Regions from separate parts of the Homo sapiens genome. Here region 1 is linked to region 2. The links come from fine-mapping of genetic effects on gene expression. A gene starts in region 2. The other region holds a variant in brackets. All regions are shown on one strand. Distances are between the middles of the regions. Region 1 overlaps KBTBD6-DT (KBTBD6 divergent transcript). Region 2 holds the start of WBP4 (WW domain binding protein 4).

Region 1 (13,017 bases), 110 kb after region 2:
GTGTCCTTTTTAAAATTTGGTTTTCCCTAGCAACTCAATCCAAAAATCTCTCTGTAAAGCCCAGGTCATAATTTTCTAGGTTTAGAAAAAGTTTTTACATTCCTGGAGAGGGCAGAAGGGAGGCAGTCCCCATGATCCCTAAAAATTCACTCTTAGAAATAGATTTAAGATAGCAAAAGATGACAAAAACCCCATAGGGATGAGATCTTTTAAGAAAAAACTTCCCTAAGAAGTTGACACATTTGGAACAAAAAGTGTACTGCTTAAAATATTAGATGTCTTGGATTCCCAGTCTTTGCAGACTGGCTTCCTGATGTGAACCTGAAAATTCCTGCCCTCCAGATAGTGGAGACTAAGAGAGTACTCCCACTTGGTAAGAAAGTCAAGCTTTCAAGGACATAAAACAAAATGAGAAGGAAACCTCATCCAATTTTATTTCAGGGGCCCACAGCAAAATTTGTCTTAACAGGTACTTGGTATAGTCCGAACTGCAGAACTGACCAGTCTGCAGGGCCAGCTTGAACAGTGAGCATATAGGGGTTCTAGGCCCATGTTCTATCCTATGATACTTGATACTTTTTTTTTAGGTGCTTCGTGTGGCATTGAGGGTTTTAGGGTTATTGAAGGGATATTTATTCTGACAGATTTGGGGGCCCACAAGGAATTTCCTTGAGAGAAATTTGTGAGGGAGGCTACCTGGAGAGAGATGTGGCCTTCTATCATTGCAGCTTTCTGTTTAGGAACAAAAGGAAGGCCATTTTTGCATGAATCTGTTCCCAAGCTTTATGTTTACCTTTGGCATTGTGATTTGGGGGACTTAAGATTTTATTTTCCTTTTAGTTATTGTTATCTATAAAAGCTAAAATGAAAGTAAAAGAGAGTGCCTGGTTGGGGCTTGAGCCTGGACCAACCTCAGATATGGGTCTGTCTGAGCTCAGATTCTTAGCCTCAAATCTACCCACAAGGGAGAAAAAGTATGCCAGCACAACAGAAAGTACCTTTGATACTTGTGGGTAGTCAATGTGGCAGAAGGGCAAAAGCAAGCAACAGTTGAAACCATAGGGTATAGTATGAAGGAATCATTCCATTTTGTACAACAGTATCAGCAGCTCCCTGAGGAACTTTTACCAAAATGGATTATGAGAGTAACTAATTTGGAAGCAGTGGCTTTGGTTTGAAATGCTGCACAGTGGAAAAACATGTTTGGGTGATGCAGGACCCACAGGTCACTATAGAACAATTGCAGATTCATATATATGATCCAGACACATAGGTTATTCCTGAGAGAAGAACTGGGCTGGTGGACTGGATAAAAGCCACTGTAAGATCTTTTTACCCCGAAAAGGGGGTCTGTTCAACTCCCCCTGTAAATACCAAGTTGGGTAATTCAGATGAAGCATGTGCAAGCCATGTGGGATTGGCTTTATGAGGACCAGTATATTCACCCACTGAATATGCCTGTTACCCAGGTTATGGTAAATGCTGTGGTTAAGGGGACCCCTTCTACACGGGTACTGTCAGGCCTCTGAGCCCAAGCCAAGCCATCGCATCCCCTGTGACTTGCATGTATACGCCCAGATGGCCTGAAGTAACTGAAGAATCACAAAAGAAGTGAATATGCCTTGCCCCACCTTAACTGATGACATTCCACCACAAAAGAAGTGTAAATGGCCGGTCCTTGCCTTAACTGATGACATTACCTTGTGAAAGTCCTTTTCCTGGCTCATCCTGGCTCAAAAAGCACCCCCACTGAGCACCTTGCGACCCCCACTCCTGCCCACTGAGCACCTTGCGAACCCCACTCCTACCCGCCAGACAACAAACCCCCTTTGACTGTAATTTTCCTTTACCTACCCAAATCCTATAAAACGGCCCCACCCTTATCTCCCTTCGATGACTCTCTTTTCGGACTCAGCCCGCCTGCACCCAGGTGAAATAAACAGCCATGTTGCTCACACAAAGCCTGTTTGGTGGTCTCTTCACACGGACACGCATGAAAGGTACCACATGTAATGACATCACTCCTGAAAAATGGAACAAGAGTCCTAGAAGCCTTATCAAACTTGTTGTCTCAGCTTTCCTTGATGGGTCTTACAGGTATTAATTTTAAAAGTTAGGTTAATTAACAAGAACATGGTGAAGGTTAGAGCAGAGAGTCAAAAGACTCCTCCCAGAAGGGTGTAAATTTTTAAATGTTTATTAAGAAATAAGATGAATAGTCTGGGCACAGTGGCTCACGCCTGTAATCCCAGCACTTTGGGAGGCTGAGGCAGGTGGATCACGAGGTCAGGAGTTAGAGACCAGCCTGGCCAACATGGCGAAACCATGTCTCTACAAAAATACAAAAATTAGCTGGGCGTGGTGACAGGCGCCTGTAATCCCAGCTACTCAGGAGGCTGAGGCAGGAGAATCGCTTGAACCCGGGCGGTGGAGGTTGCAGCGAGCCAAGATCACGTCATTGCACTCCAGCCTGGGTGACAAGAGCAAGACTCCATGTCAGAAAAAAAAAAAAAAAAAAGAATACAGAGAGCATTGATAAGGGTGAAACTAAAAGGAAAAAGAAAGGGGAGAGTCATGGGACTCATCCCAGCAGGGTAAACATGTTTAAATAGTTATTAAAAATGGGATAAATAAAACAAATTGATGGGGTTAAAACAAAGGTCTTAATACAACACTATCAAAGAGGGAGCCCTGCCTGTCTACAAACATTATAGAGCCCAAATCAGTTTTCTGTATTTGCCCCAGATTTGTGAAATTTAAGAAAAAAAATCAGAAGGTAAAGATTACAGTGAGAAAGCTGACCAAAAATTGGGGCAATGTTGAGGCAGTTAATCAAGATAAGGATTGACCAATGAGCCCAAGTGCCTTGGCTCAGCTCCCTGTTGGGAACTCAGATCCTTTTTCACAAGAAAGGGTAAAATGGTCTAGGGTGGAGAAAAAGTTTCCTGGGACTACAACATAAAATGTAAGGGTCAATAGGATTTTAAGAGTTAAAATGTTTGAACAGGCTTTATGTAAAGTAGCTGTGTCTCCTTTACCTAAATGTTTTCTGGGAATGGACATTGTATATGACTGGAGGATGATTCCCCTTCCTAGTACTGTGAACTAGAAAGCATGTAAATCTTCCCTTTGAGCAATACTAATTGGACATGCTCAGTGGGAACCAGTAAGACTGACCAAGCCCACAAAGTATAGAGTAGAAGCTGAAGTGCTGGTAGGGAACAAATTATCCACTGGATAGCTCCTTGTAGAATTTTTATTGGGGCTTATGGCAAAAGTCTATGAGCACCTTCACTAGAGAATTTTCATTTGGGGGTATTTGCTGCCTTGTAATTGGATGTTAGCTGAAGCTACTGCTATGATTGAAGGGCATAAAATGGCCTTGACACCTGAAATAGTAATGTCTGAATGTCAGAGAAACACTCTAATGAGGATAGCAGCACCCAAAAGGGTCCCACCAATAAAATGGGAATGATTTGTGTAGTATCCTGCTATTTGAAGGATGCAAGGAGGAGATAGGAGCAGGGAGTCTCTTTTTCCCTAGGAGTCACTCTGAAACTGTGTGAGGGGCTGCTGGATTCTACAGTGCCCAATAAACAGCTCTCACCTGACTGACAAAGAGCTGCTTGGTTTGTGGATGGCAGTTCCAAGGTGAAAGGACAATATCCTGTTTGGAAGGCTGCTACTCTAATTGTAAAGTATACTATTGTGAACAAAATTTACCTGTCTCTCTACCTGATATCTCCAAAACTGGAAACTATTCATATATTCGTATGACATGGGAATACAGTTATTTGCATAAGTTCAGTAAGAATCTGTTTTCTTTTGTAACAGGACACAATTGGAGACACAGGTTCTTCTATCAAGGCCTTGACTGGAATGGCATATTTTCAGATATGACCACATTGCTTTGAGGAAATGAGGCTGATGTTGCAGAGCTGATAAAACCCCCACAGAAAGGCCAGCCTACCTCTGGTAAGTAAAAAATGTCACTTTCTGGCAGGCCCAGGAACCTCAAGTTATTTTTGGGCCTCAAGAAGAGAGGAATACACCCATTCATACAGGTATGACAGGCACAATCGGATAGCGAATCCTTGACTTGGTTAGCCTCAGGGCTTATAGAAGTCTAATCTGAGATTCCTTATGAAAAGTGTCCCAGTGAAGCCATCTTAAAAGGAGCCAATATGGCCAATCCCTGCACTTTATGCAAATAGTCAGGTCAAGTTAATGAGACTAAATTTATTTCACAAGTAAATTGGCCCTACTTTGATTTATCCTTAGTAGAAATGGGAAAACTGTTGAGAAAAACTATGTTTCAGAAGAAAACTATAGTATGCTCATTATTAGACTGTAGCCTTAATGATTGTTTCTGAGTTTTATTATTTGCCTATAATTCAAACTGAATCCTGAATTATTTCCTGGCTACAAATTTCTAAAGAAAAACCGAGATTTAATTGTCTTCATGCCCTTTTTTATTATAATCCTTGTGTGCATTATATTTCTACTATTCAAATTATTAATGTTATATATCTCTACTTTTACTTCTTCCAAGAAAACCAAAGTCACGGTATTCCAATGACTAGAGATGACAAACCAAAGCCTGTGAATCTCCCTAATTTGGAATGCTACTGGGTCTGATCTGTTTTCCCTGCCAACCCACTGCTGCTAAAGTTGTGCAATGTCAAGCACTTTCCCTAAAGGCCCAGAAGAGGAGGGTGTGTGAGATTAAGAGGGATGGAGTGTGGGGGCTAAAGCAACTCCATCTTGGATGTTGATCTGCCATATTGAGTTCTGATTAACCCCATTTCCAAAAAGGCCTCTAAGGTTTTTTTTTAATTATTTATTTTGCTTACTGTTCCTTGTGTAAGATCATGTACTTACCTTAAGTCCTGCCCTTGAATAATTTTCCTACACATCACTTCTGTATCACATATACCCTTTCCCCATGGTATATAGGCCTTGGTTCTGGGTGTAATGGCGTGGGGATCCACCAACCTGTCTCCACACTACCTGAGACACAGACATGGTTTCTATTCATAAGTCACTATTAAATGTTTCTGTCAGGTGCAGTGGCTCACACCTATAATCCCAGCACTTTGGGAGGCAAAGTAGGAGGAACACTTGAGGCCAAGAGTTCAAGACCAGCCTGAGCAACATAGTGAGACCCCCCTCCTCCCTTTACAAAACACAAAAAAGTTAGCTGGGCATGGAGACACATGTCTCTAGTCCTAGCTACAGAGGCTGAGGCATGAGGATTGCTTGAGCCAGGAGTTCAAGGGTGCAGTGAGCTGTGATCATGCCACTGCACTTCAGCCTAGGTGACACAGTGAGAGCCTGTCTGGAAGGAAAGAGAGAGAGAAAGGAAAGAGAGAGAGGAAGGAAGGAGGGAAGGAAGGAGGGAAGGAAGGGAGGGAGGGAGGGAAAGAAAGAGGGAAAGAGAGAGAGAAAGAGAGAGAGAAGAGAAGACAAGACAAGAGAAGAGGCCGAGCATGGTGGCTCACGCCTGTAATCCCAGCACTTTGGGAGGCCGAGG[C/T]GGGCGGATCACGAGGTCAGGAGATCGAGACCATCCTGGCCAACATGGTGCAACCCTGTCTCTACAAAAAATACAAAAATTAGCGGGGCGTGGTGGCGCATGCCTGTAATCCCAGCTACTCAGGAGGCTGAGGCAGGAGAATTGCTTGAACTAGGGAATTGGAGGTTGCAGTGAGCTGAGATCATGCCACTGCACTCCAGCCTGGTGACAGAGTGAGACTCTGTCTCAAAAAACAAGAAAGAGAGAGAGAGAGAGAAGAAGGAGAAGGAGAAGGAGAAAAAGAAAAGGAAGGAAGGGAGGAAGGAAGGAAGGAAGGAAAGTTTCTTCCTGAGAAACTGGATATGTAAGCCTCTTTCTTTGAATTCTCCGCTTCCTTGGAATTTAGTGGTTGGTTTGCATAGGCTTGCTCACTGTGAAATTCCACTGTGTGGAATTGGTGATTGAGGTGAATTTCACATAATGTAAAATTAACAATTTTGAAGTGAACATTTTATTTGCCTTTGAGGTTAATCCTTGTTGTAGAGTGTATCAGTACTTCATTCCTTTTTATGGCTGAATAATATTCTATTGAATAAATATGCCACATTTTGGTTTTTTTCACTCATCAATTGATGGACACTTGGGATGTTTCCACCTCCTTTTGGCTATTGCAAATAGGGCTGCTATGAACATTAATTCGTGTACAAGTATTTGTTAAAATACCTGTTGCCAATTCTTTGGGATATATACTTAGAAGTGACATTGCTGGGTTATATGGTAATTCTATATGTAATTTACTGAGGAATTAACAAATTGTTTTCCTTAGAGGCTGAACCATTTTACGTTCCCACCAGGAATGTACAAAGGTTTGAATTTCTCGACATCTTCACCAACACTTGCTATTTCCCCATCTCATCCTTTTTAGTAGCCATAGTTGTATAATTATACCCATTTCTAGTGGGTATGAAGCTGTATTTCATTGTGGTTTTGATTTGCATTTCCCCAATGACTAATGATCTTGAGCATCTTTTCATGTACTTGTTGTCCATTTGTTTATCATCTTTGGAAAAATGTCTAAGTCCTTTGCCCATTTTTAAGTTGGGTTGTCTTTTTGTTGTTGAGTTGTAAGAATTCTTTACATATTCTGGATGTTAGACCCTTATGAGATATATAATTTGCAAATATGTTCTTCCATTCTGTTGTTGTCTTTTTACTTTCTTGAGAATATCCTTTGACAAACAGAAGTTTTTAATTTTGAGAAAGTCCAGTTTATTTTTTATTTTGTTGCTTGTGTTTTCAGTGTCACATCTAAGACTCCATGGCCAAATTCAAAGTTATGAAGATTTACCCCTAACTCTTCTGAGAGTTTATAGTTTTAGTTCTTATATTTAGGTCATTGGCCAATCATTGCAACTTAATTTTTGTATATGGTATGAGATGGGGGTCTAATTCCATTCTTTTGCATGTGCATATCCAGTTGTCCTGTACCTTTTATTGAAGAGACTGTTCTTTCTACCAGTTTTGTCCTTAGTTTACTCTTCTTTTTCCCCTGTTCTTTAAGGAATAGGGTTAGGTTATTGATTTGTGCTCTTTCTTCTTTTTTAATGTAGGCAGTTGCAACTATGATTTCCCTATGAGCACTACTTTTGCTGCATCCTGTAAGTTTTGGTAGGTTGTGTTTTGCATTTAATTTATATAGTACTTTCATATTTCCCTTGTTGATTTTTTTCTTTGATCCATTGGTTGTTTAAGAGTGTGTTGTTTAATTTCCATACATTTGTGAATTTTCCATTTTCCTTTGGTTATTGATTTCTAGCTTCCCTTCATCGTGGTCAGAGAAGATACTTTCTATGATTTAAGTATTTTAAATGTATTTATCGTTATTTTGTGGCCTAAAGTATGATCTATTCTGTAGAATGTTCCATGTATGAGAACAGTGAGGACTCTGCTCTGCTGGTAGAGTGTTCTATATGTGTCTAGTAGGTCTAGTTGATTTACAGTGTTCAAGTCCTCTACTTACTTATTCATGTGCTATTTAGATGTTCTGTTATTTTTATTTTTCTCTTTTTTTTGTTTTGTTCTATCTATTATTGAAAGTGGGTTATTAAAATCTCCAATAATTATTGTAGAACTAGTTCTCCTTTATTTCTGTTAACGTTTTCTTCACATATTATGGGGCTCTGCTGTTTGGTGAATATATATTTATAATTGTTACATCTTGGTAGTGAATTGACCCTTTTATGAATATATAATAATATCCCTCATTTTAAAGTCTATTTGGACTGATATTAGCATAGCCACCCCAGTTCTCCTTTTGTTACCATTTGTATGGAATATCTTTTTCCATTATTTTACTTTCAATATATTTTATTTCAATATATTTTACTTTCAACATATTTGTCTCTTTGAACTCAAAATGTATTTTTTGAATCCATTCTGCCAATCTCTGCCTTTTAATGGTGAGTTTAATTTTTTAACATTTAAAGTGATGACTGATAAGAAAGCAATTATTTCTATCATTTGCTATTGTTTTCTACAAGTTTCATATACTTTTTGCTCCCCAAATACTGTCTTTTGTGTTTGTGTCTTTCGTGTTTTTTAAAGTGTACCATTCTGATTCCTTCCTCAGTGTCTTTTCTGTATATATTTTAATTATTTTTTTGTGAGTACTCTGGTGATTACAAAAAACACCCTAAATATATAAAAATACAGTTTGAGTTGGTATCAACTAAGTTTTAGTAGCATACACAAAATCTATTCCTATACAGCTTTGTTATTGTCACAAATTGCATCTTTTATACATTGTGTACCCATTAGCATACTTTATAATTACTGTTTTCTACATTTGTCTCTCAAAGAACATAGGAAGCAATAGGGTACAGACTGGGCTCACAACTGCAATCCCAGTAATTTGGGAGGCCAAAGCAGGAGGATCACTTGAGGCCAGGAGTTCAAGTCCAGCCTGGGCAACATAGCAACACCCCCATTTCTACAAAAAAAAAAAAAAATTAGCAGAACATGGTTGTGTGTACCTGTAGTCCCAGCTACTTGGGAGGCTGAGGTCAGAGGATCACTTGAGCCCAGGGGTTTGAGGCTGCAGTGAGCTGTGATTGTGCTACTGCACTCTGGCCTGGCTGACAGATTGAGAACCTGTCTAAAAAAAAAAGAAGAAATTAGAAAATAAAGATATAGGAGGCCGGACTCAGTGGCTCACGCCTGTAATCCCAGCACTTTGAGAGGCCGAGGCGGGCAGATCATGAGGTCAGGAGTTTGAGACCAGCCTGGCCAACATGGTGAAACCCCATCTCTACTAAAAATAAAAAAATTAGATGGGTGTGGTGGCACGTGCCTGTAATCCCAGCTACTCGGGAGGCCGAGGCAGGAGAATTGCTGAAACCTGGCGGTCAGAGGCTGCAGAGAGCCGAGATTGGGCCACTGCAGGCATGAGCCACCATGCCCACCCCCCACCACACCCTTTTCTTTCTTTCTTTCTTTCTTTCTTTTTTTTTTTTTTTTGACAAAGTCTTGCTCTGTTTCCCAGGCTGGAGTGCAGTGGTGTGATCTCGGCTGACTGCAACCTCTGCCTCCTGGGTTCAAGCGATTCTTCTGCCTCAACCTCCCGAGTAGCTGGGACTACAGGCATACACCACCACACCCAGCTAATTTTTGTATTTTTAGTAGAGATGGGGTTTTACCATGTTGGCCAGGCTGGTCTCAAACTCCTGACCTCAAGTGATCCACCCGCCTCGGCCTCCCAAAGTTCTGGGATTACAGGCGTGAGCCACTGCACCCAGCCAGCACCCCGCCCTTTTTTAAAAACCATGAATGTGTGTTGGAATTTGTTACATGCTTTATCTGTGTCAATTGATATGATCATATGACTTTTTAGCTTGTTGATCTGGTGGATTACATAGATTTCTCAAATGTTGAACTAGCCTTGGATGCCTGGAATAAATCCCTATTGGTCAAGGCTATGAACTGCATGTTTGTGTCCCCTCAAAATTTATATGCGAAACTCTAACTCCCCGGTGTTAGGAGGTAGGACCTTTGGGAGGTCATGAGGGTGGAGCCCTCATGAATGGGAATAGTGCCCTTATAAGACAAAACATGAGAGAGTTTATATCTCTTTCAGCCATGAGAGGATACAGTGAGAAGAGGGTGATCTGTAAACCCAGAAGAGTGCCCTCCCCAGACACTGGAACTTCTAACACTTTGATCTTGAATTTCCCAACCTCCAGAACTATGAGAAATAAATGTTTGTTCTTTATGCCACCCAACATTTGATATTCTTGTACAGCAGCCTGAATTAAGATAGTCACAGTGCGTAATGTTTTGTTATTTTATTCAGTTTGCTAATATTTTGTGGAGGACCTTTGAATCTATGTTCATGAAAGCTATTGGTATGTAGTTTTTTGTTTTTTTGTTGTTGTTTTTATTTTTTTGTACTGGTTTTGATATTTGGGTGATACTAGCCTCACAGTGAGTTGGGGACTGTTCTTTCTTTCTGGAAAAGATTGTGAAAATGCATTGTTATCTCTTTGAATGTTTTGTAGAATTCTGCAGTGAAACCATCTGGGCCTGGGATTTTTTAGGAGATTTTTTAAAATAAATTCAGTTTCTTTAATGGTTAATATAGGGCTACCTAAATTATCTATTTCATCTTGGTTGTGTTTGGTAGTTTGTGGTTCCTCAAAAGGCTTCATTACTTCTAAGTTTTCAGTAAAAAAACTGTTTTAGAGTATAAAACTTTGTGTAATATTTTCTTATTATCTTAGTGGCTACAGGATATGAAGTGACATCCCCTGTTTTATTCCTCATATTGGTGATATCTGTTTTCTCTTAATTTTTGTGACTCTTGAAAGAAGTTTGTACATTTTATTGATTTAAAAAAGAAACAGGCCGGGTGCGGTGGCTCATGCCTGTAATTCCAGCACTTTGGGAGGCCGAGGCAGGCAGATAACGAGGTCAGGAGATCAAGACCATCCTGGCTAACACGGTGAAACCCCGTCTCTACTAAAAATACAAAAAATTAGCCAGGCATGGTGGCGGGCGCCTGTAGTCCCAGCTACTCGGGAGGCTGAGGCAGGAGAATGGTGTGACCCTGGGAGGCGGAGCTTGCAGTGAGCCAAGATCGTGCCACTCCATTCCAGTCTGGGCGACACAGTGAGACTCCGTCTCAAAAAAAAAAAAGAAAAGAAAAAAAAGAAAGAAATCGTCTTTTACTTCATTAAATTTTCTTCTCTGCTATTTCTTATTTCTAATTTTATTAATTATTGTTCTGATCTCTATATTATTTCCTTCCTTTTTTTTAAGAAAGAGAGACTCTCACTCTGTCACCCAGGCCGGAGTGCAGTGGTGCGATCATAGCTCACTGCAGTCTTGAACTCCTGGGCTCAAGCAGTTCTCCTATCTCAGAGTAGCTGGGACTACAGGACACACCACCATGCCTAATTTTTAAAATGTTTTGTAGAAATGAGGTCTCGCTATGCTGCCCAAGCTGGTCTTGAAATCCTGGCTCAAGTGATCCTCCCTGCCTTGGCTTTCCTAAGTGCTGGGATAATAGGTGTGAGCCACCAAGCCTGACCTCCTTCTTCTTGATTGCTTTGGGTTTATTTTCCTCTGCTTTCTCTAGTGCCTTATGGTAGGAGCTTAGATTGACTTGAGTCCTTTTCTCATGTTTAATGTAAACATTTAATGCTACAGTTTTGCTCTCAAAAATCCTTTAGCTGTATCCAACATGTTTTGGTATGTTGTATTTTCATATTCCTTAAGTTTCATTTTTAACTTGAGATTTTCCTCTTTGTCCCAGCAATGATTTAAAATTTATGTTGTTCAATTTCTCTGTGTTTAGAGAGTTTCCTGTTGTCTTCGTTATTGATTATCTGTTTGATTCCAATATTGTCAGGAAACATGCTACGTATACTTTCATTTATTTTGCATTTGTTGAAGTTGTTGTATGGCTCAGGACATGGTCTATCTTGATGAATCTTCCATGAACAATTGAAAAAAAAGTGTACTCTGCTTATTGGGTGGAGTGATGTGTCACTCCATGATTGGTTGATTATATTAGTCAGATCTTCTATATTCTCGCTAATTTACTGTCAGTAGCTTTGTCACTTGCTGAAAGATCATGTTGCATTTTCCAATAATAATTGTGGAGTTGTCTGTTTTTCCTTTTAAGTCTATCAGTTTTGCTTCATGTATTTTAAGACTGTTTTTTGGTTTATACACATTTGAGATCATTAAGTTTTCCTTGTCAATTGAATTTTTCATTAACATGTATTATCTCTCTCTGTCATCTCTACCCTAGTAGGTTTTTTTTTTTTGCTTTTATTTATTTATTTATCTATTTTTAAATTTTTTTTTGAGATGGAGTCTTGCTCTGTTTCCTAGGCTGGAGTGCAGTGGTGTGATCTCGGCTCATTGCAACCTCCGCCTCCTGGGTTCAAGCGATTCTCCTGTCTCAGCCTCCTGAGTAGCTGGGACTACAGGTGCCCACTACCATGCCCGGCTAGTTTTTGTATTTTTAGTAGAGATGGGCTTTCACCATATTGGCCAGGCTGGTCTCGAACTCCTGACCTCGTGATCCGCCCACCTCAGCCTCCCAAAGTGCTGGGATTACAGGCGTGAGCCACCGAGCCCCACCCCATGCATATTTTTTAGACAGTAGGGAGAAACCTTTTACAGATAAGTTACAAACAAAGAAAAGGCAAATAAACAATTTTGTACAAGAAATTTAACACATTCTGTACAAGTTGTTCACTTTGCTGTCATCATTTGTACAAACTCTTCATAGATCATTTGACCATCACCATCAATATGTGGTTACCTGATCATTTCATCAACCTCGTCATCTGTTAAATTCTCTCCAAGGTTTGTCATCACATGGTGAAGTTCTGTTGCACTAATATAGCCATTGCCATCCTTATCAAACACACAGAATGCATCTCTAATTTCTTCTTCACTGTCTGTGTCTTTCATTTTTCTTGCCATCATTGTTAGAAATTCAGGGAAGTCAACTGTGCCATTACCATCAGCATCTACTTCATTAATCATGTCCTGTAACTCTGCTTCTGTGGGATTCTGCCCAAGAGACCTCATTACAGTTCCTGATTCCTTGTTGTTATAGTTCCATCACCATCTTTGTTAAATAGTGAAAAAGCTTCTTTGAATTCTGCAGTCTGCCTTTCAGTCAGTTGGTCAGCCATGCTGCAAGCGCTACCAGTTTCTGAGATGTGACCACGCAGCCACTCAGCTTGCTCACTCGCTCGCTCCACTCGGACTAATTCCTATACATTATTTTTTTTGAGTCGGAGTTTTGCTCTTGTTGCACAGGCTGGAGTGCAGTGGTGCAATCTCAGCTCACTGCAATCTCTGCCTCTCAGGTTCAAGCAATTCTCCTGCTTCAGCCTCCCCAAGTAGCTGGGATTACAGGCATGTGCCATCATGCCAGGCTAATTTTGTATTTTTTTAGTAGAGATGGGGTTTCACCAGGTTGGTCAAGT
Region 2 (12,767 bases):
AATGTAGAAAGATATTGTGTGATAAAGTCTCTTAAGTGCTGGTGAAATGTTAAACTAAAAATTTATGTAAGTTCATTGTCATTTACAATTTTAAAAAGGATATCATAGCAAAACCATTAAAGAAGACTAGAAAACAAATATATCTTTAAGTTTATTGACTCTTCATTCAATACCTAGGTGAAGAGTAAATAGATCACCAAGTATTTTGAAAGTTACCTTCCTTGGCCAGGCACAGTCGCTCACGCCTGTAATCCCAGCACTTTAGAAAGCCAAGGCGGGAAGATCACCTGAACCCAGCATTTAGAGGTTGCAGTGAGCCATGATCATGACACAGCACTCCAGCCTGGGAGACAGAGAGACTCCCTGTCTCAATAAATAAATAAATGAGTAAATACTTAAAAATAAATTTAAGAAAGTAAGCTACTTTTCTTAAACTGTATCTAAATAATACTAACCTAATCTAAATGATCTACATTATATGGCAATTTACCTTGTAAACCTACATAAACGTGCACTTTCATCATAGTCTACTTCACTTACAATTACACAGCACTGTTTGTAGAATGTGAGACATATGTGTTAGCAAAAAATAATTTTGAAAAGTTACCCACAACTCCATATATTTACTTTGAAAAAGTTAAATAAAACCGAACACTTAAAGTTTATTGCATTTGTCACACTACATTTTTCAGAACTGACTCAGAGAAATATTTAAATAATTAAAATCACCAGGCACTGTGGCTCACGCCTGTAATCTCAGCACTTTGGGAGGCTGAGGCAGGAGGATCACTTGAGGTCAAGAGTTCCAGACCAGCCTGGCCAATACAGTGAAATTCCATCTCTACTAAAAATACAAAAATTAGCCGGGTATGGTGGTGCACGCCTGGAATCCCAGCTACTCATGAGGCTGAGGCATGAGAATTGCTTGAACCCGGGAGGCAGAGCTTGTAGTGAGCCGAGATCATGCTACTGCACTCCAGCCTGGGTGACAGACTGAGACTCCGTCTCAAAAAAAAAAAAAATTAAGATCATTAACATTATATTTGACCATTAGTACATTACCAAAACGTAAGGTCCTTATGGTAAAGTACCAGGTCTCTATGGTGAAGTATCAGTGGCAAGGGGGTCAATCAATGATTCATCCATTCTCCTCAGTGTGGATATCACCTTCTTAAATAAGGCACAATTGCTGACCCCAGATGGCTGCTTCAACCCACTTCTGCTTTACTGGTGACACAAATTTCAAGCCCTAAATGGCTACCCCACCCCTTCTGACACCTCTGGGAATTCAAGTGTGTAAGATATTTATAACATTATTGGCTGTAAACAGCTCATCTCTTAGGAAAGTTTTATTTGGTCGTGAGTCCAAAACTGAAACATTTCCTGAGTTGCAGTGAGCAAATAAGTATTTCACAATCACCATTTTATTTTGATTCAAGCTAGTTTATGAAACTACCAAACTAGTATAATTTGTGAGCAGAGTGTCCTTCTAAATAAGTAGCGTAATATAAACCAAACTCATTTGTATAAATACAATTAAGGCAATCCATCCAAAACGTAGAGAACTTTTAACAACTACAACCAAATCCACAAAAAAACGAGGCAAGAAGGCCACTTTCACTTAGCCAAAAAAGGGTGTGGGGGGATGTTTGATATATTTCTCAAAAAATATAACTCTCAAGGATAATACCATATGTCTTATAAAATGGGATGAAAAAAATCAGTACAACAAAAGGGATAAATGACCATTTCACAACAGGCCTACATGCCACAATATTTTAAAAAACCAACCCTTCCATATGAAATTTCTAGAGCAAAGAAGTACCATCTAAAAACCACTCTTGAATCATTGCAGCTTTTTAAAACTACTGGTTCCATTTTAGATTCCCTTTATTTAAAAGCCTCAGAAAAAATTCAGAGAAAAAATTAATTTCAAGCTTTCTATTTAATGAGCATCACTGCATGCACCAACGTGGAAGAACCAAAGCCAGTTCTAAAACAGTAAATCGCAAATGAATGAAACTTTAATTCTTGATGGTTTTAGTCCTGATATTTTGTCCACAGGGTGGCAGTCTCACAGTATTAACTTGTTCATGGAGTCAATGCACAATTTCAGAGTTCGAAAGCCACAGACACACGCAGGTATGCAATAAATTTACTAGCTGGCCAACCCTAAGAGTAAAAACTGCCAGTCCGCTGCAATAAAATCTGTGCTTCATAACTTCTCTATTTCTTTTAGAAATATTTACTTTCTGAAGTCGTAGATTTTTTCCTTCAGTGTTATCTGTTGTATCTGATCCTTTCTATTCTGCTGCCACCACCCTATTTAGGGAGAGAGTAGAAGCAAGGAGAGATGTTAGGAGATTATTATTGGACTGCGGGAAGTCCTTGACCTTTGTCAAGGCCTAATGGAGTGGGAACAGGAAAGGGACAGTGGAGATGGGGAGCACAGACATAATCCTTCCATCCACCAGTTCAACCTGCACGTTACTACCAAATTCATTTCATTAAAACATTCCTCGTATTACCAGAAATCTCTTTTCCTAACTAAACTCCTTAGCTCCAAATCCAAGAGGCTTCCAAAATCTCCTTGTCAAGGGGCTTCGTAAAATAAACTTTGCTTTGCTTTAAATAGACCTTGCTTGCCACTTCTTGATTTTCATTCATTCATTCAAATGTTTTCTGAATGTTTACCAGGTGCCAAGCCCTGCTTCAAGTCTGATGATACAGAGGGAAACAAGTCAAAGCCCCTGCTCCAAAGTTACACTCCTGACAGTGGTCTGTGAGCGGGAGGAGGATATGTCCCCAGACACTTCCAGCTCTCTGCAGGTAAGAGGTATCGTTCTTCCTAAGTATGAGCCATTGGAGGCACACTAGGCATCAGGAGGATAGTAAAAACACATTGTCCACTACAGACCCTAATCTATTTTCGCAGCCTTATTTCCCATTCCTATCCTACCTGCACCCTCAGCTCCATTAAAATGTGCTAGTAACTGTTGACATGCCTCTGCTCCTGCTTGCTTCCTCTCAATGCCTTGTCCCCATCCCTGTCTCTACCAGCAAAAGCCTAACCAGCCTTCAAAGCTTATCTCGAATGCTGCCTCCTACAGGAGGCCTTTCCTCATTCCCCTCACACAAACTCAGATATGGATTTTGAACACTATCAAACACTTATGACCCCTGGCTTAGTCCCCTCTGAGCATTTATCAAACTATGTATTGTATCATAATTATCTGTATACTTACCTAACCTCCTCCATCAGTTATTTAATAAGCACTTACCACATTTGTGGAACTAACTAGGAGCTGAAGTTTCCCCATTAAATTATTCCATTATTATTTTAATTTTTATTTTCTAGAGAGAGGGTCTCACCCTGTTGCCCAGGCTGGAGTTCAGTGGTGCGATCATAGCTCACTGCAGCCTCAACCCCCCAGGTTCAAGCAATCCTACCACCTCAGCCTCCTGAGGAGCTGGGACTACAGGAACGCACCACCACACCAGCTAATTTTTGTTTTTTTTTTTCTTTGGTAGAGATGAAGTTTCACCATGTTGCCCAGGCTGCTATTATTTTAAAACAGGTAATATCCAAATGATAAATGTAAAATCAAGAGAGAAAATATTCTATATGCTTTTTATTGCTTCAATCCCTTTTAAGAGTTTAGTCGAGATAAAACTTACATATCATGAAGTTTATCTATTTAAAGTGTACACTTCAACATTATTTAGTGCATTTATAGAGTTATAGAACTATCACTGTAATCTATTTCAGGACTTTCAATCACCCTAAATTTACTATCCACATTGGCAGTCACCTCACCCCAAACCTCCCTATCCCCTCTAATCCAAGGCAACCACTAATTTTCCCTCTTTCTCTATAGATTTGCCTATTTTGGATATTTCATATAAATGGAATAAAAATGTGGTCTTTCATGCCTGACTCCTTAGTGTAATGTTCTTGTGATTGAGTACCTCATCCCTTTTTATTCCCAAATATTCCACTGTGTGGATACACTACATTTTACCTATTCACTCATCAGTTGAGGGACATTCAGGTTGTTTCTACTTTTTGCTTATGAATAATGCTGCTATAAACATTTGTATACAAGGTTTGGTGTGGGCATGTTTTCATTTCTACTGGGTACACACCTAGGAGTGGAAATACTGGATCATATGGTAACTGTTTAACATTTTGAGGAACTGCCAAACTGTTTTCCAAAGCAACTGCACCATTATACATTTCCAGCAGCACTGTATAAGGGTTCCAACTTCTTTACTATTGTTTGAATCTTTACTACATACAGAACAAGAACGATCTCATATGATATCCTTGCCTTCAGGGAACTTATATTGACAGACTAAGACAAGAAATAAACAGAAACAAATAAACAGGTTAATTTCAGATACTAAGAAAATGAAAAAAATGTCATAAAGTAACCAGAAAGTAACCAAGGAAGAGGAAGTCTCAAGCTAAAGTGGTCAGAAAAGATCTGAGAAGGTAATGTTGACCTGAGATGTGCAGAGCTACAGGGGGAATATTCCAGGCAAAGGAAAAAGGCAAGAAACAAAACTCCGAGACAAGGATAAGTTTGGCATGGCAAAAAGGAAGCCTACGTAGCCAAGATACAGTGAAGTGGTAGATAAGGTAGGACCTGAGGTTAGATGGGTAAAGTCCAGATAATGTTGGACCTATGAGACCATGATAAGGTCTTCGGATTTTAGCTGAAATGCAGTAATTGCTTTAAAATCCCTTCTACTTCTTTAAATACCAGCGTTCATCTCTGCAAACATTTACTGAACTTTCACGTCTTTTTTTTTTTTTTTTTTAAGAGATAAGGTCTTAGGGTCTTGCTCTGTCACCTGGAGTGTAGCGGCAACATCACAGCTCACTGCAGCCTTGAACTCCTGGGCTCAATGGATCCTCCCACCTTAGGCTTGCAAGTAGCTAGGACTACAGGCATGTGGCATCACACCTGGCTAATTTTTTTTTAATTTTATTTTTGTAGAGACAGGCTCTTGTTATGTTGTCCAGGCTCTCTCACTTTTTCTCTTTTTTTTCCCCCCACCCCGAGATGGAGTCTCTCTCTGTCTCCAAGGCTGGAGTGCAGTGGCACGATCCTGAGATCCTGGCTTACTGCAATCTCTGCCTCCAGGGCTCAAGTGATCCTCCCACCTTGGCCTCCTGAATAGCTGATACAGGTGCAGCGGGTGCCACCACGCCTGGCTAATTTTTTGTATTTTTGGTAGAGATGGGATTTCGCCATGTTGATCCACCTGCCTCAGCCTCCCAAAGTGCTAGGATTACAAGCATAAGCCACCACACCCTGCCTCTTTCATGTATCTTCTAATTACACCTAACAGTAGCAAATATTAAAGAGGTTATTTGGGTAAATCCACAGCACTCAGTGTCACTAATTTATGGCCCAAGAGACAGCACCTAAAATATGCCTGCCAATGGCACAAGCGTTAAGAATGAATCCTCACAAACTGATTACCTAGCCTTAATCAATTTAAGATATACGTCTTACTGACAGTAGTGAGCAGCTCTGTCTTCGAATACCAAGGTCACTTTCAACAAAGCAAGACAGATTATTCTCACACTTTAAGCCTAGATTTCATTCCTATAAAGTGAATTCTAATTAACTGATTGCTTTTCTCCATTCTATTAATTACAAATTAATATTCAACTCCTAAACATAAAATGTACGGACACAAAATATTCTACATGTTTCTTTATTGTTTGAATCTTTTAAAACAAGAATTTTTCACATGCCACTGCTACCTTTGGGTTTTCCAAGAGACAGAAATGGTTTAAAAATTTTTGTGACATAAAATGTCACTCCTTGATAAAAGAACCTGTTACCTAGTCAAAATTTATCAAGTTAAAATTCCTTTCTACATTCCCAGCTTGATCTCCCATGGCCCTCCCTGCAGGCACTCTGTGCTCCTGCCAAACCGACTACTTGCCAGCCTCATACTTGTTCCCCCTACCTCAGCTTTATGATTCACATTCCCCAACAGGAGAAATCCAATCAGTTCTTCAAGGTCCACTCTCCCCTCTAGGTCTCTTCTCCAGTCCTCTCCCTTGAGCAGAACCGATTCCTCACCTCTGTTACTCCAGTAGCACTTCTACAACTCAGATGTTGCCTTACCATATTCTACGTAATGCACAACTACACGAAAGATAAATCTGTGTTTTATACAGAGATGATGCAACTACTTCCTTTGTGTTCACCCCCAGGTATATAGTACAACTATTTGCAATTACTGAGTGCACAGTTGAAAATAACATCCATTTTAGCACCATTTGGTACAATGTTGTAAACTCATTACAAAATACAAGGTCAAGGCCTGGCGTGGTGGCTCATGCCTGTAATCCTAGCACTTTGGGAGGCCGAGGTGGGTGGATCACCTGAGGTCAGGGGTTCGAGACCAGCCTGGCCAACATGGTGAAACATTGTCTTTACTCAAAATACAAAAATTGGCCACGCGTGGTGGCGGGTGTCTGTAGTCCCAGCTACTTGGGAGGCTGAGGCACGAGAATAGCTTGAATCCGGGAGGCGGAGGTTGCAGTGAGCTGAGATCGCGCCAATGCCCTCCAGCCTGGGTTAACAGAGCGAGACTCCGTCTCAACAAAAAAAAGAAGAAAAAGTCAAAAGTTAAGCCCTCTCTGGGGACAATTAAGGCAGAGTTATCCGAGTTATCTTTCCTTCTTTCCAAATTTTCAACTACTGTAATTCTTTAGTAACTGCTTCTTAATAATGACACACTATTACTTATTTAAATGAAAATTCCACTTTCATTATCTATTCAGGAATCGCTCAACAATTCTTGTAACTCTATTTAAAATTTGTGAGTGATACGTGTTATCAAAAATGTATGGCTCTAAAGCCAGAGAACAGAGAAGGTGAAAAGTCTCATCACACAGCTAATCACAAAGACCAAAATATTATTCCATTCAGTATTCTATCCACTAGCTAACATAAAGAATACAAACATCAGTAACTTCAAAAGCATGTGGTGGTGCTTGGTGTGTAGCAAACACACAAATATTTGAATTAATGAAGACGATTTAAAATACTTAGGCTTTTTCTTTCTTTTTAACAAGGTAAGCCTAATTAATCCTTAATCACGCAGATCACATTAACAAATTTACTGTGCAGTTAAAGCTACAAAATAGTCTGGGAACACACATACTAACAACCAAAACATCTGCTTTCAGTAATGGCACTGACCAGAAACCCATCTACAAGAGTCACTTTTTCCTTCTTCGTTTGTTCCCAGAGGCCCAATAAACATTATAGCCGACCCTATTTTCTAATTTCAGCTTGCATTTAAGATAACGCTTTTGTTTCATTTACAGCTCACATGCTGCTGACACAGCTGTCCCTTCTTTGTAATAAACACAGGGCTTCTATATTTAAAAATACAGTGAAACTTTGTTTTAACGTCCCCTCCCCAGTCTCCAGCCAATTTTCTCTTTCCCAAGCCCCACCTCCACCCCAGGATGTTTTGCCGTTGTTTTAATCAATTTTTTTCTTTAAATCAACCGCGCTCAAAATGTTAGACCCTTTGGAAAGTCGATATACTTATTTAAAGCCATCTCATCAGAGTGGTATTTTTCTCCTCCATAGCTCGTGGTGTGTATTTTTAAAGGGAAAGAAAAAAGATTCTCGTTCCCAAAGGCCTTTTTTCGAGGGTACTTTCCGTGACTGCGACCAGCGCCCCTTAAGTCAAGTTGGGAAGACCTCGCAGGCCGGCCTCGCGCTTGCTCAGGCGCCGCGGGTGGAGACGCGAGCGCACACGCGGCGGAAAGGGGCGCCGGGCGGCTGCGCGGCCGGGAAAGCGCGTCCCCCCGGGAGGGCGCGGAAGGCACACTGTGTTCCGTGGGGCCTCGTAAATACCCTGCGGCCAGAGAACCACTAGAGCTACTGGTCCGGGCGCGGGCTCTGGGGCGCCCAGGGCAGGGGGGTCAGCCCGTCCTGCATAGGAAGAGTCGCAAGAGCGGCTGAAGAGGGTGTGGGCCGGACGGGGGCGCTGGGAGGAGATAACGCAAGGCCGGAGTTAATCATCACCTCCCGGGCGTCTGGAAAACTACGGGCCGGAGGGGCGGGGGAGCAGCCCAGGGGAAAGTGAAACTCCCTCAGGGCCCACCAGCCCCGTGAGCCGGAGGCGGGAGGGAGAAGGATCGGAAGCGCATTCGCTTCTCCAGCAGGCACGGCGTGGCACTCGAGGCTCCAAAAGCCGCAGCCCAGCTCCTGGCGCCACTAACTACAGTAATGCTTATTTTCTACAAACTCACCCAGACGGGGACAAGAAAGGAGCCAGAACACAAGATTTAAAAAGTCAGCCCTCCAAACCGATAGTTGCAAAAAAAAAGAAAAATAAGGAAGCGTTCCCATACCGGGAGTCGAACCCGGGCCACCTGGGTGAAAACCAGGAATCCTAACCGCTAGACCATATGGGAAGTGCTATGAGAAACTGCCGTGACCCACCTGACAAGCATAAGTGCCTCTGCCTCCTTCGCCGCACCTCTCGCCACCGCCGCCTCTGCGCTACTGAAGCTGCTGCTGCCGCCGCCGCCGCCGCCGCCGCCGCCGCCGCTGCTGCTGCCCACACGCTCCCGAGCTAGGGAACAAGCCCCATCCGAGCGCGTGGGCGTCGTAGGGGAGAGGAGGGGCGGGGCCGCTCCGCTGCAACAGCAAAGTTTGAGGCGAAGCCTAGCGACTCGCAGCGCCGGTCCCGCAGTTTCACCTCTTTTTTTTTTAACTCCGCCAGAGGACCCCGACCCACAGGTCCCGGTTGCTCCGCTGGTCAAAGTGCGTGCGGAGTAGTTGGCAAAGTTGAGAGCGGAGACGTCTCTGGGAACAGCTGTTTGCGTTCCGGGCGGAGGCGGCGCGCTGAGCTCCTTGGCCTTGAGCCAGCGAGCCTAGAAGGAGGATGGAGGTTTTGGGCCCCAGGGGAGGACACAGAGACGGCGGGATGGCGCAGGGACTTGAGGCTTGAGATCCCGTCCTTCAGCTCAGGTCCCGTCGCGCTTTTACCCCTTCCCGGTGACCTCAACCCCTTTATACCGACCCCACCTCTTTGGAGCCGGGAGTACCGCCCCTGTAGGGGGAGGGGAGAGGAGGCGATTTCGAACGCGGATTGGATCGTCTGGGCACCCGTAGTTGGGAACAGCGGAACGCTGGTCCCGGGGACTGAGTAAGGTGTCTGGATCGGAGGGAGGTTCGGGTGGGCATCGGGCGGCTGGAAGAGCTCGACTCGTCCCGCTGGGAAAGCGCGAGTCTGAGTGGAACCCTGGACGACTTGCAGAGCGGCTGGCGCAGTCATGTGAGTTGGGTCTCAGGCCCTGAACAACGAGGTGTTGTTTCTCTGGGCCGCCCTTTCTCGCCCGGGTCTTCCCCTCCTCTCCTCCCGCCCTTCGGCCGGGGGCGTGACAGACGCGTTCTTAACTCGCTCGGGACCGGCCCCAGACCTGCAGGGCCGGTTCTCAGGGCGGGGTAGAAATGTTACCCCGCTGAACGCCCTGGGGTATGGGGCACGGGCTCTAGGGGGAGGCCGGCGGCCGGTTCAGGGGGCTGGTTGGACGGCCGCGGGTGAAGCGACGCAGTGCTCTCTCTACGACGCTGTCGGGGGTCGCATGCACCCCTTGGGTTTCCGAAGCCCCTGAACCCTAGGGTATTGTGAAACTAGGGCTGGGCTGCGGCCTCCCCCGCCCACTGGAAGCGGCCAGCCCTGGATAGCGTAATGGTTTTTTTTTTTTTTTTTTTTTTTTTTTTGTCGGCCGTCTACGAAGTCCCATGGCTTTTCCAGTTCTCTCTTGCCTTGAGGCTCAAGAACAGTTTGTTTTAACTGAGAGTCTGGGAGGAACTACAGTTTTCCCCAGAGTAGTCTTGTACGTTGTTCTCTTGGTGGGAATAACTTGATTTAAGGCAAACTTTATGAGTTTCTTCAGGTTTCCATTACAGCAACCTCCCCCAAAGCCAGAAAGGATAAATGTTCTTCTAAGATGTTCCTTAGTTTTTCATAACGATGACGATAACAAGTGAGGAATTTTTGAAAGCCATTTTATTGAAGGGAGTTTTGTAATGAATCAGATACAGACTTTTTCTACTCCGCTGGCAACAGAATTTCAATTGACTGTGCTCCAACCAGATAAATAATAAAACGACTATACATAACAAGACAAGATTCAGTAGCAGGGGCATATATTTCAAACTTTAAAAACTGTAAAGCATGCAGAATTTAACCTTTTTTAAGTTTTACATGAGCTTAGCCTTGTTGTCTCTCTTTTTCAGGGCGGACTACTGGAAGTCACAGCCAAAGAAATTCTGTGATTACTGCAAGTGCTGGATAGCAGACAATAGGCCTGTATGATAATTCCGCTGTTAGAGATTCTAATAATAATTGTGTTGAATGAAGTGCTCCTTTTTGATGTAAACTCAGTTTACAAAGCACTTTTATGTACATTGCTCTTGCATTTTCAAAACATCAGAAGATTTCTGTCTTCTCAGTCCCCTATGAAAGCTGTGAGCCTTCTTCCTTTTCATCAACCTGACTTTGATTATATATTAAATTATTTCTCTGTGGCCTTTTGGGAAATGGGCAATGAGTTGGTCATATCATTCATGTTATGAAGCACCTATATTATAATGGTGGTGTTCATAATACTGTCATACCCAAAGAATTGTGGAAAGCCCTTAAAAAATAAAAGCAACATGTTTAGTTTTTCTTGTATATTTTGTGGTCTAGAAATAATCAAGTGTATTTAATGCAGAGCTGTGTATCTTTAGATGCTTAAATTTGAAAGAACACCATTATTTCCTTTCTCATGAAACAAAGTAACAACTCTGTTAGGTATGTTGTTAGTCTGTCTCATAGTTGAGATCCAGTTTTGAAGATGTAAAGCAAAAAGCACACCGCTGATTTTTCTCCCCTCTTGCATGTCAAAATACTATGTACATACCACATAAACACTAGGGTATCTGTTAAATATATTTTATGTTGATACCGTTTTTACTTGGCAAAGTTGGATGCACAAAGAATAGTAGTCTCATATTTTAACAATGCTGTGGATTTCTTCTGTAGACATTTATTTCCTGTTACCTGCAAGGTGTTTAGGATTTGGATTTTTTTTTGATGTTTTGGTCTTTTTGGATAGTTGCTAAAGTTCTTCACTATTTTACCTAGGCTATCCTTATAAATAAATACCATGAATTTTTAAAACCACACAGGTCACTTAAAGTCTCTCTTTCTTGGAGGTACCTAGGCTGTAAAATGAATTTTGTGAGTTATCTAGAGTAAGTAATCCCTTCCAGTGTAGTCTGTCTTTATCTTCTTGAGTTGGTAATACACATTGATTTAACCTTTAATTAGAAACAAAATTAATTTAATTTTGAATGGTCCTTTAATATTGTATTCTTTGTGTAGTGTAATCAACTTTAGGAAACGCAATGTATGAAAAACAGGAGGATTATCTGCTTTACAAAGTCACACTTTAAAGATGAATTCATGGTAGTATTTTAAAATAGCTCAGTTAATGCATCATGTAAGATTTGATTGACAGAACTTATTTTGCAGAGCTTGTGAGGAATTTCTTACTGCATTTAACTAGAAACTTGTAATTTAGGGAGCATTTCTGATTGTTTAAATAGATAATTGCGCTCACTCACCAGCCCCTGTCCCCAGTCATCTAGTGGCCATCACTCCCCATAGGTTATCATTTTTTTTTTTCATTTTCTTGCCTATCCTTCCATTGTTTCTACATGCATGTAGACACAAGTTCTTATTCCAGCATACATAAAAGGTAATGTACTGTATATATTATTCTGCACTAGTTTTAAAAAATTTAACAGTATGTAACTGGAGCTCCCTTTGTATCCATACATAAAGAGCTTCTTTCTCTCTGTTACAGTAGACTATGAGAATGTACCATAGTTTAACCAGTCAGTCCCTTAGAGATGGATACCGTATTGTTATTGCAAACAGTGCTGCAGTCAGTAAGCTTGTGTATATCATGATTTTGTACATGTGCAGGTATATCTATAGAATAAATTACCAGAAATGAAATTGCTGTGTCAAAGGGTAAATGTATTTGTAGTCTTGATAGATATTGCCAAATTATCCTCCATAGAAGTTGTACATTTTGAACCATTACCACATTGTATAAAAGTGTTTGCTTATAATTTACGAGGAATCTTAAAATACATACTTTTCTCCTAAATTTAAGGAATAAAGCAATAAAATCATTGTTCTCTATGTCCCTCCTTGTGACAAATAGAGCAATAAAATTCTAAAGGCTTTTGATGTTGAAAGTTGTTTAAGATTTTTTTCCCCAGTCTTTTGGCTTCATGTCACGTTTGAGTCCTCATTACAATCATAGTCACTAGATTAGTCATCAAGGGTACCTTGTATTTTTCTCCATTAATAAGGTCATCATGGTTTATTTTAAGAACCAAAGGAAACCTAGTCAGAGGACATAATAATAAACAATGTAGTTCCCTAGCATCATTTGATTAAAAGGGCCAATTTGCATTAAATTAATGTTTTCATCTTTTCTGCCATTCATTTTAATTTTAATTTTCTCATGTTTATGAGAAAATTATGTTTACTATGAATTTTATGATGTTTATGTAGTTTTCTTTTGTTATTTTCTCTTTTCATTTTCAAGAGTGTTGAATTTCATGAAAGAGGAAAGAATCATAAGGAAAATGTGGCAAAAAGGATCAGTGAGGTAATTTAGATTGTTTATTTGCTAATTTTTCTAT

Evidence for each region. PIP is the estimated chance that this variant, and not a neighbour inherited with it, causes the effect. A credible set is the group of variants that fine-mapping cannot tell apart.
Region 1: its variant is the best candidate, but not a certain one, in a credible set for the expression of WBP4 in tibial artery (GTEx, PIP 0.55).

What each region holds. Positions count from the first base shown.
Region 1 is chr13:41,158,429-41,171,445 of GRCh38, forward strand. KBTBD6-DT (KBTBD6 divergent transcript) reads left to right here. Exons shown (of 4, transcript NR_120423.1): 3 at 3,835-3,975. It also overlaps the pseudogene CALM2P3. Among named protein-coding and RNA genes, the nearest start is that of KBTBD7, 30 kb to the right of the region's middle. The variant C/T (reference allele first, on the strand shown) is at 5,534.
Region 2 is chr13:41,052,346-41,065,112 of GRCh38, forward strand. WBP4 (WW domain binding protein 4) reads left to right here and starts at 9,164. Exons shown (of 10, transcript NM_007187.5): 1 at 9,164-9,330; 2 at 10,299-10,371; 3 at 12,671-12,733. The coding sequence starts at 9,329. TRE-TTC1-2 (tRNA-Glu (anticodon TTC) 1-2) reads right to left here and starts at 8,464; the gene lies at 8,393-8,464. It also overlaps a transcript of ELF1 not described here. RefSeq lists an enhancer at 1,294-1,343 and a silencer at 7,779-7,958.